Regions from separate parts of the Homo sapiens genome. Here region 2 is linked to region 1. The links come from fine-mapping of genetic effects on gene expression. A gene starts in region 1. The other region holds a variant in brackets. All regions are shown on one strand. Distances are from middle to middle. Region 1 holds the start of FAR2 (fatty acyl-CoA reductase 2). Region 2 overlaps FAR2 (fatty acyl-CoA reductase 2).

The links. PIP is the estimated chance that this variant, and not a neighbour inherited with it, causes the effect.
Region 2: its variant is the best candidate, but not a certain one, in a credible set for the expression of FAR2 in iPS cells (HipSci, PIP 0.73).

Annotation. Positions count from the first base shown.
Region 1 is chr12:29,147,185-29,152,571 of GRCh38, reverse strand. FAR2 (fatty acyl-CoA reductase 2) reads right to left here and starts at 3,294. Exons shown (of 12, transcript NM_001271783.2): 1 at 3,165-3,294. RefSeq lists silencers at 2,927-3,076, 3,387-3,446.
Region 2 is chr12:29,285,896-29,291,282 of GRCh38, reverse strand. The region is part of intron 2 of FAR2 (fatty acyl-CoA reductase 2); the gene reads right to left. The region is part of intron 5 of FAR2-AS1 (FAR2 antisense RNA 1); the gene reads left to right. Among named protein-coding and RNA genes, the nearest start is that of FAR2-AS1, 29 kb to the left of the region's middle. The variant A/T (reference allele first, on the strand shown) is at 2,743.

The sequences.
Region 1 (5,387 bases):
AGACCTTAATAAAGGAGTTTGATCAATTCCCTTTCACACTATTTTATTCCTCAGTGGTTCTGAGTGTATTGCCATCATGCTAACAAGGACAGCTGGAATAAAGATAAGTTTTGAGGTCAGAGAGTAGTTAAGGGAGGAGTCTGGGGACAGAGGACTTGCCTGTTTTCTCAGTTCCTCTTTAAGAGGCACCAGAGTTACAAAAGGTCACTAGGTGTATTTGGCAAGAGACTAGGTGTACTTTAAATTGATTTGGCATTTCCTAGGATATTTTAAAGGATGACTTGATCAAACTTTTGAACTTACAGATTTTTTAAATTAAATGAAACAAAAAGGATTACCCCCTCAAAAAATTTCAGTCATTGGCTCATTTTCTCACCGTTCGACGTTTGGATGAATTAGACCCAAACATTAATTTAATTCAATAACTACCTTTGGGATCCAAGAAGTTATTCTGCACCTTTAGTTGAAAATTCTAATTTTGTCCAAATAATGATATTTCAGGAGTATTTAACACACTGAATACTTGCCTACTTTTTGTTTTATTTTCCACCAAACTATAAGGGTCAGAAAGGTTCTACAGTCTTTTCAGTGTGCTCAATCAACCTTCCTCAAGCTACTTCTGAAAAATGGAGGGCAAAGTTTAACCCTTCAACAACAGCATATTTTTTAGAAAAGAACTATTCAAAGCAAGTAGACATTTTTTACAATTATTACCTCTTTTTACTTAGAGATAGTACAACCTTGAAAATAAAGAAAGTAGAAGGTGTCATCTGTTGTCTTTATTTTGTCAATGAGGAAACTGAAATGTAGGAAGACTGAATGACATGTCCAAGAGCACCTAAGTGAGCAGCAGATAAATTTCAGGTTTGTACTGGAGAACTCACCGTAAATGTGGGATTGCTGTTCAAACACTGTTATTTGGTTAGTTTTAGACCAAGTTTGTCAGCCTGGGGTCAGGATATAATTTGTAGGACCCAGTTCAAAATGAAGATCCAGAGCCTCTTTGAAAATTATTAAGCCAGCAGACGGTGATAGCAGAACATTACCAAACGCAGGGCCCTTCCAAGTGCAAGGCCCTGTGCGGTTGCAGTTTTGTATTTCCATGAAGCTGGCCCTGCCTGGAGCCTCTGGACATCTAGAATGTAGGAGGCTGGGCATCAAGGAGGCCATGAACTCCTGAAATTGTAGGTGGAATTTTGTGTTAATATGTATGCATTTGTCTTTCATATTCCATAGCTTTCATCAGATTCTCAAATTGGTCTGTTACCCTCTTCAAAGGTAATACATGTTCCAACAGAGCCTACAATGTCAGAATATATTGGTAGGGACAAGCATGCTGGTGGTCACTGTGCATGATCCTTCACAAGGCTATATTTGTGAATAAGTAAGTTTTCATGAGTGCATGGGAATTAATGCAAAATCAAGGAATTCTTAACACTGATGAGACGTTGCCAGAAACAAATGCACTCAAGAATGCTTCTTCCTCAGGAGATAGGAAAGCAGATGGTGAGATGGTCAAGATGATCATATGCTTTATAAACCCCAAAGTGATACCCTAATATAAGCCATTTTATTTATTTTCAACCTCTCCCTCTTCCTCTGTAACTGGATGTCACATTTTAGCTTCCTTTAAGGAAAGCATATTTTCATTTACTTTAATTTCTCTAATAGCTGTATGATTTACCAACTCATGGTGATTTACATCTCTTTTATAGATAATTATAGCCCAATGTTAGAAATAGGAGTAAGTGAGGAATTTGTTAATACAGCAGGGGCAGAAGCAGCCCTCAGAATTAGGAAAAGAGTACTGTAAAGACGTGGATCCTGAGAAATACTACCGATGAAATATTGACACACGCGTCGGCCTGGTAAAAACCTCATGCCCATCTCCTAGAAGTCTCACACACAAATATCCCTTCTGCGGAAATGCCTGCTCTTGCAGTTTAGGTGGCTGCCTTAAGTTTTTATTTAGTCCCTTGCCCCCCTTTCTAAATTTTGGACTAACTACACCTGTCAGTCAAATCTCCAGCTCTTATAAATGGGAATATACAGAGATGGGTAATTGAAACCACGGGGTAATTCTCAAATTTCCATTTGCCCAGTGTCAAATTTCTCTCAACCTAGCAAACAGAAAAGCACGATCTACCTGAATTCCCTGGTCACTTTTCTGACCCTACTCTGTCCTTGCTCATCACATAATGGGGGCACTTTACGTGATTCAACGAGTGGCCAAACTCTTGCAGATCCAGCGATAACCTTGGTTGCTCACACCACATAACTCAACCGTGGAAGAAATGGTGCCACCGCTGGCAGGTGAGACGCCTTCCTCTGGTTTGTAGGATACGATTGGGCATGAATTGTTTTAATAGACTGAGACTGCCCCGCGGGTAATTCTACTTGCTAGGAGTGTTGAGCAGCCTTCCTGCAAGCCATCTACTCCAGTTGGGAGTCTGCTGGCACCTGCTCCCCTGCACACCCCCAGGATGCCCAGGCCGCAGGAAGATGTCTAAAACTTCCTACAGGGGCAAAGCCCGCCCTGGCCTCACCAGTCGCCCCAGCGCGCGTCAGCCACGACCCCGGCGAGGCCCAGGTGGGAGGGTAGGGACGTGCGCAGCCTGGGGTGGGGCTGGGGGCTGGCGAGGACCTGCTCCGGGGACCAGGACTGGGCGCCCTGGCGGTCCCAGGCACCGGGAGGGGACCTAGGACCGCTGCCGTTTCACACGTGGCCCCGGCATTTTCGCGCTCTCTCCAGGAATAGCCCCAAGGGCCCAGGAGGCCTGGGTGGGACTCGGCCCCGCGCCTCTCTTCCCGGGTCCCCAGTCCCCAAGGCGCGGCCCCCCACATTAACCTTGCTGGGTCCTTCCCGGCTTTCTGCCCTTTGCAACCCCCGCGCGCCCCACCTTGGCGGGCTCCGCCGACGCCAACCGCGCGTAAACGGCCGGTGACGATTGGGGTGCAGCCGGGGGCAGCTTCAGGGGGCAGAGCCTCCGCAAATGCTTCTCTCCTCCCACCCGGCCTCACACCCACCCTCCTCGAGGTCCCGCCGGGAACCGCCCCGCCCTGCGAACCCAGCCGAGCCCTCCCTCCTGGGCCACCCCCAGTCCGGTCTCTGCTTTTGGAGCGCGTGGGCTCTGCGAGCGCCAGGGCTGGGGACCCTGGAATACCTGTTCCTCCAGCACGAGGATGGGGTCCAACTAGTGGTCCTCTAAATCCTGCTCCTTCCCCGAGGCTACGGGAAGCGCTCCAGCCACAAGGAAACGGCTCCAGTCTTTCGGCTCCCAAACGTGACACTCTATATATCCGGCTCGGAGACTGGGTGTGGGGCGGGAGGAAACCACCCTCCCTCCGACCTTCCCCGGCTCCGCCGCTGCCTCGGCACTGGGCGCGAAACCGGCGGCAGCCTCAGCCCGGGGCGGGAGGAGGGTGAGGGGCCAGCGAAGGCCCTACAGGTCGCGGGGGCGACAGCATCGTGGGCAGGGCGGCCGCGCGCGCAGGCCCGCCCCGCGCTTCCATTCGTTCAGCACCAGCGGATCCACTGGCTATGACTCCCGCATTTGTGTGGTTTGGGGGAGGGGAGTTGGTTTTGGTTTCGGTGGGTTTGGTTTGTTTGTTTGTTTGGGGCTTTTGTTTTGTTTTGTTTTGGGTTTTGGGGTTGGTTTTTTTCTCCATTTTTTAATCAGTGGGCGAGGGGACAAGGAAGCTAGAAAGGCGCCCCTCTCTGGTGTGGGAAAGGAGAACTCCCACACCGTGAAAGGTGGCGGGGTAGGGGGGTGGAGGGAGAGACCGAGACAGGAGAGAGATTCAAAGGTTCTAGTCTGAACTGAACGCTTGGGGGACATACCTTTCCCCACCCACCCTAGCAGAAAAGGCAGCCAAAAATCCCAGTTTACTCAGCTTGACTACACTGCACATCCCGTGGGAGGGATGCTCTTGTATCTGCTAAAGACATTGCGGAGGCGCCCTGCAGTGACCCACGAACGCAGTGGCTTTTTAAAACCCAAGGGCGTGAGGGTGGAGGGTGATGCGAGGACTTCAGGTGAGGCTTCCTCACACTCGGGGTTTGAAGGGCAGAAATCCGGCTCTGCCTGCCTATGGTGGGGTGGGGGTGGGTAGGAGACTAGAAAGGATCAGAGATGGGGGCCGCAGAAACAGCAGTGAGCCAGCTGTGCTCAGCAGCACTTCTCCGGACTTAAAAGAAAAAAAGATGTTTCATTTCTTAGCCTGGTAGCTTTTTTGGGATTTGGTCATTGTTAAATTTTAAACGGAAAAACAAGCTGCCAGGGAAGCCTTGTAGAGGGATGGACAGGCACGTGAGTGGAGCCCTTGGCCTCAACCAGGAAGTGCTGAAAAACGGCCAACGCCCATCCTAATTCCCTGGACAATGTAGGAGGTAAATTTCCAAATAAATATGGTGTGTTAAGAAAAATAGAAAAGAAATATTGTCCTATAAGCTGTTCTGATTCTCCTCATTATAACAATCCACATGCAATTAAAGAAATAAAATTTGACTTTTGAAAGTTAGAATTAAGGAGTGATTTCATGAAATTAAAATAATAACACCCATCTTGAATTCTCTACTACTGGGCTCTTTAATGAAATGTGTTAAGCTAAGTGTAGCCTAAAGGCACTGACTAATTTCCTCTGGTGACCGCCTGAATGCAAGAGACAGAAAAAAAGTTACAACCAAATTTATAGTATTTTTCGTTACCCCTCCCCTCCTCAAGAATAAATTTGAATGTATCTTCAAAATGTGTGTGACAGCACTTCAAATGATAATGTCAAATGCTGGTGAAAACGTATAGAAATCACTTAACAGATAGCAGATGGAAGGTAAATTGTAATCACGCTTTTGTTGGAAAGCAATTTAGCAACACATTCCCAAGGTGTTCAGTAACGAAATTTTTTCTTGTTCTGGACCTAGATTCCCATGTCTTACAATGTATTCAAAGGAGATAATCCATAAAAGAGAAATGCCGCATGTACATAGTTGCATATTTATTACCGAGTTGTTTATAAAGTAGGAAATTAAAAGCATACTTTCAGTGGGATGTTCATAGATAAAATACAACATTAATTATAGATTACAAAACCACAATTTGATTATCACCATTTAAAACGCTATTCATATATGTAGAATGTATTAGTTTGCTAAGGCTGTCATAAGGATGCACATAAACTGGGTGGATTAAACTATAGAAATGTATTATTTCATAATTCTGGAGGCTAGAAGACCAAGATCAAGATGTCTGCAGGGTTGGTTCCTTATGAGGGCTTTGAGAGAGAATTTTCCATGATGCTTACCTACTTCCAGTGGTTTCTTGTTGGCTTGTAGACACATGACCCCTGTCTCCTATAATCTTCATATGGCATTCTCCCTATGTTCATGT
Region 2 (5,387 bases), 140 kb before region 1:
GGTCCAGGTACCATAATTGGGAAACACTGACTCTGAAAAATTCATGTCTGTTCTTAAATTCAGGGCTTATATTTCCCCCTCTAGTTTGTAAACTCCTTGATTCTTTTTTTCTTTTGTAGGGAAACTCTTTCTATTTTTCTTTAATTTCTGTGGGTACATAGTAGGTATATATATTTATGGGGTACATGAGATGTTTTTATACAGGTATGCTATATGAAATAAGCACATCATGGAGAAGGGGTATCTATCCCTTCAAGCATTTATCCTTTGAGTTACAAGCAATCCAATTATACTCTTTAAATTATTTTAAAATGTACCATTATTATTGACTATAGTCACCCTATTGTGCTATCAAATAGTAGGTCTTATTAATTCTTCTATTGTTTGCCACCCTTTACCATTCCCATCCACCCCCTCCCACTTGCCTTCCCAGCCTCTGGTAACCATCCTTCTACTCTTTATGTCCATGAGTTCAATTGTTTTGATTTTTGTACCTGACAAATAAGTGAAAACATGCAATGTTTGTCTTTCTGTGCCTGGTTCATTTCACTTAGCATAATGACCTCCATTTCCATCCATGTTGTTGCAAATGACTGAATCCCATTCTTTTTGATGGCTGAGTAGTACTCCATTGTGTATATGTACCACATTTTCTTTATCCATTCATCTATTGATGGACACTTAGGTGGCTTCCAAATCTTAGCTAGTGTGAGCAGTACTGCAACAAATATGGGAGTGCAGATACCTCTTTGAGATACTGATTTCCTTTTTGTTGGGTATATACCTTGCAGTGGGACTGCTGGATCATATGGTATTTCTTTCTTTTTTTTTTTTTCTCAGACAGAGTCTCACTCTGTCACCCAGGCTGGAGTGCAGTGGCACAATCTTGGCTCACTACAACCTTCACCTTCTGAGTTCAAGTGATTCTCTTGCCTCAGCCTCCTGAGTAGCTGGGATTACAAGTATGCACCACCATGTCTGGCCAATTTTTGTATTTTTAGTAGAGATGGGGTTTCGCTACGTTGGCCAGGCTGATCTTGAACTCCCGACCTCCAGTGATCCACCCGTCTCAGCCTCCCAAAGTGCTGGGATTACAGGCATGAGCCACCACACCTGGCCCATATGGTATTTCTATTGTTTTTTGAGGAACATGCAAACTGTTCTCCGTAGTGGTTGTACTAATTTACATTCCTACCAACAGCATATGAGGGTTCCTTTTGCTCCACATCATTGACAACATTTTTTATTGCCTATCTTTTGGATATAAGCCATTTTAACTGGGGTGAAATAATATCTCATTGTAGTTTTGATTTGCATGTCTAATGATCAGTGATGTTGAGCACCTTTTTATATGCCTGTTTGTCTTTTGTATGTCTTCTTTTGAGAAATGGTTATTCAAATATTTTGCTCATTTTTTGATCGGATTATTATACTTTTTACTGTATAGTTGTTTGAGCTCCTTATGTATTCTGGTTATTAATCCTTTATCAGATAGGTTGTTTGCAAATATTTTCCCCCATTCTGTGGCTTGTCTCTTCACTTTGTTGATTGTATCCTTTGCTGTGTAGAAGCTTTTTAACTTGATGTGATCCCATTTGTCCATTCTTGCTTTGGTTGCCTGTGCTTGTGGGGTATTGCTCAATAAATTTTTGCCCAGACCAACGTCCTGGAGATTTTCCCAAATGTTTTCTTGTAGTAGTTTCATAGTTTGAAGTCTTAGATCTAAGTCTTTAATCCATTTTGATTTGATTTTTGTATATGGAGAGAGATAGAGGTCTAGTTTCATTCTGCTGTATCTGGATATCGTTTTCCCAACACCATTTATTGAAGAGGCTGTCTTTTCTGCAGTGTATATTCTTGGCACCTTTGTCAAAAGAGTTCACTGTAGGTGTGTGGATTTTTTTCTGAGTTCTCTATTCTGTTCTATTGGTCTGTGTGTCTGTTTTTATGCTGGTACCATGCTATTTTGGTTACCATAGCTTTGTAGTATAATTTGAAGTCAAGTAATGTGATTCCTCCAGTTTTATTCTTTTTTGCTCAGGTTAGCTTTGGCTATTCTCAGTCTTTTGCGGTTCCAAATAAATTTTAGGATTGTTTTTTTCTATTTCTATGAATAATGTTACTGATATTTTGATAAGGATTGCACTGAATCTGTACACTGCTTTGGATGGTAGTATGGACATTTTAACAATATTGATTCTTCTAATCCATGAACATGGAATACTTTTCTAGTTTTTGGTGTCCTCTTCAATTTCATTCATCAGTGTTTTATAGTTTTCATTATAGAGATCTTTCACTTCTCTGGTCAAGTTAATTCCTAGGTATTTAATTTTATGTGTGGCTATTTTAAAGGCTTTTTAAAAAATTTCTTTGTAAACTCCTTGATTCTTATTCATCTCTTTATGCCTGACAGTATGCCATTCATTGAAAAGACTCAAATTTTGCTTATTGAATTAAAATTAATTCCTGTAAGATCAGTAATAGAACTATTACTACAATAGAATGGAAGCCTGATTCCTGAAGTTTGTATGACTGTGATGAGAGATAGCAGATAGCGACTGCTAAACGAGGACACAAGTGTTTCCTGAGTCCTCTATATTAACTGCCAGTGGGAGCTTGAAGTAATGTAATTTCTCCAGTCTTTATAGCAGACCTTCTATTTTTATAATAATGACAAGACTGAAGGGACAAGATGAAATGGTGCAAATGGAACCTGGATAAGCACCAGCTCTTCTAAAAAAA[A/T]TTTTCTTTTTGGTGTGTTTGTTGCTAATGTGAGAGATTAAAGTAAGAAAAATAGATGAAATCAAAATGAGTAAAGAAAAAACAGAATTTCAGAAATTTCATTGAAAGCCCACCAATAAAGAACAATATAATTATTTTAAATTCTAAGAGCTTATCCTGTTTCTTCTCATTGCATAAACTCATATTCTCTACTTGATGGCACAAGACTGAGAGGTAAATAGTTGGAAAGCTGCTCACCATCATCAAAACTCAAGCAGAGGGATTGCTGTTGATCCATTTTAGGAAACCTTGTTCTTTACAAGAGTAGGACACATTTCTGTGGTCACTGAAAGATACAGCTGAAAGGTGATCTAAGCATTTCAGATTGGAAACTTTGGGAGTGTTCCATTGACTTGCCATTACACAGGCAAGTATTTCTCTCCTTAATTTGTTTTTAAACATAAGATACTCTTCTAATTATATGAATAGTTACTTGTAGCCCAGAGGCAACAGAGAAACTGCAAACTCTTAAGTAAGAAAATTCAGCAGAAAGAGAAAACCAGAAAAAAAAATTTGTCTGGTTTAAATAAACTCCTTGGGTATGACTTCTGTAGTCAGACATCAAGACTGCATTTTTATTAGAAGTAGGAATTGGGGTGGGGGCATTACATTTATATAATGCTTTTGAAACAATCCAGAGGCCTTTAACATGGTCTCTTACAATGAACTAGTTAGCCACATGACCTCATTTTGTAAGTATCCACAGGAGATTTGCCCTCTACTTCCTGGGGCTCATTGAAGGTAATCTAATCTTTTCTAATCATGAGAATCTTTGATCTTTAATCATTTTACTACGTCTTTCTCTTCAAAAAGTCTTTCTCTTCAAAAATAACTACATTATGTAGTCCCAATAACCCACCAAAATTTGCTTAATTTTTTTTGGAAAATAAATGAGTAAGGTTGCTTAAACTAAGGGGCAATCTCTGTGGAATATTTGGTGTCCCAAGGTGAAAGAGACACTGTAATTTTTTTTAGAGAATTTTTAGAGTGCTGAGTAAAAACAAATCAATGAATTCTGCAAATTAGCTTTAAGTTGAAAACAAACACAAATAAGTTCGTTAATTTAAGCAAAAACCATTATACCCAATGTACAGATTAACAAAAATTCACAAAATGTTAAAATTGTTGCTAGTTCACTAGTAACTCTCATAAGATGTAAAGGATTAATCTAGACGTTTTTAGTGCTTTAGCGAAGACCGTTTCTATAACTCCATAAGGCAGCATGGTGTAGTAGTATGGCTGTCAACTTTCGGCATATAGCAGGGTTGCCCAGGAAGTTGCTCAAACAAACAAACCTATGTCCTGACCCTGAAGATTCTCATTCAACAGTTATTAGTCCAAGCTTGGGCATCTATCTTTTCTTTGAACATGGTCTCTAGTAATTCTGATATACCCTGAAGTTGAGAACCATTGGTGTATTGGAAAGAGCTCAGGCCCTTAGGAGTCATGAAATATTATATTTGAATTCTGATTCTGCCATTGATTTGCTATGTGACTGGGGGAAGTTACTTACCTCTCTGGGTCATTGTGTTTTTGCATATTTATCTAAAATGCCAACCACCTGACTATCGTATTCTGTGACCTCAGAGAATTAAGCATATATTATGCTGTTCTTAAAGACAATTTTGCATTTAAAATCGTATTCTGTGACCTCAGAGAATTAAGCATATATTTTGCTGTTCTTAAAGACAATTTTGCACTTAAAATCGTATTCTGTGACCTCAGAGATTTAAGCATATATTATGCTATTCTTAAAGACAATTTTGTATTTAACAAAATTTTAGTTCACTTTACATAATATTCTACAATAAATGCTAAAGGCAACACAGTGCTTGATTCATCATCTGGTTATGTTTTCTTTTCCCCACACCAAAGATCAATTTCACAGTCCTTTGAGAATTGTTTCTTGCATCTGGGCAGGAAAAGAGCTAGGGTGGCTAGGAAGATGGAGACCAAACTTAAGATTATTTCTACTCTCCAACAGAACTGGTGGCATCTCTGCATTATCCATGCTAGAGGATGGAAAAAACACTGATATTAACTCAGAAATGGCAAGCAATAGTTTCACTTTCCTCATGATATTGTCATCGAGGAAGAAATTTCCTAGGGGAGGCAATGCAGTACAATAGGGAAAGTATGGACTTAGAGATTAGAGACCTGCATTCCAATTTTGCTGTATCACTTGGCACAAATTACATAACCTTGGAGAGATGACAACTGTATCTCATCTGTGATGTAGGAATAGGCATACTGCAGAGATTTCTGAGGATTCGTGTAATGAAAGTCAGATGTTTGTCATAGTGCCCACCGCTTTGTAGTTCCCTAATAATAGGAAAATTCCCTTTCTACTTCCACAGCAATACTCCATTTCCAAAAACTGCTGATCAGAAAGCTGTGTTGTGTGTGTGTGTATGTGTGTGTGTGTGTGTGTGTGTGTCTGTGTGTGTGTTGGGTCATGCCAACGTTTCTGATTTTATCCTGTGATCCAGATACTTCTAAGAACAAAATGTATGCCAAAATCATGTTGAACCTCATGGCTTGGTAACTTTTTTTAATGAAATTAGTATGGGCAATTTGAAGCTTTTTTTAAGACTGAAGCTCTGTCA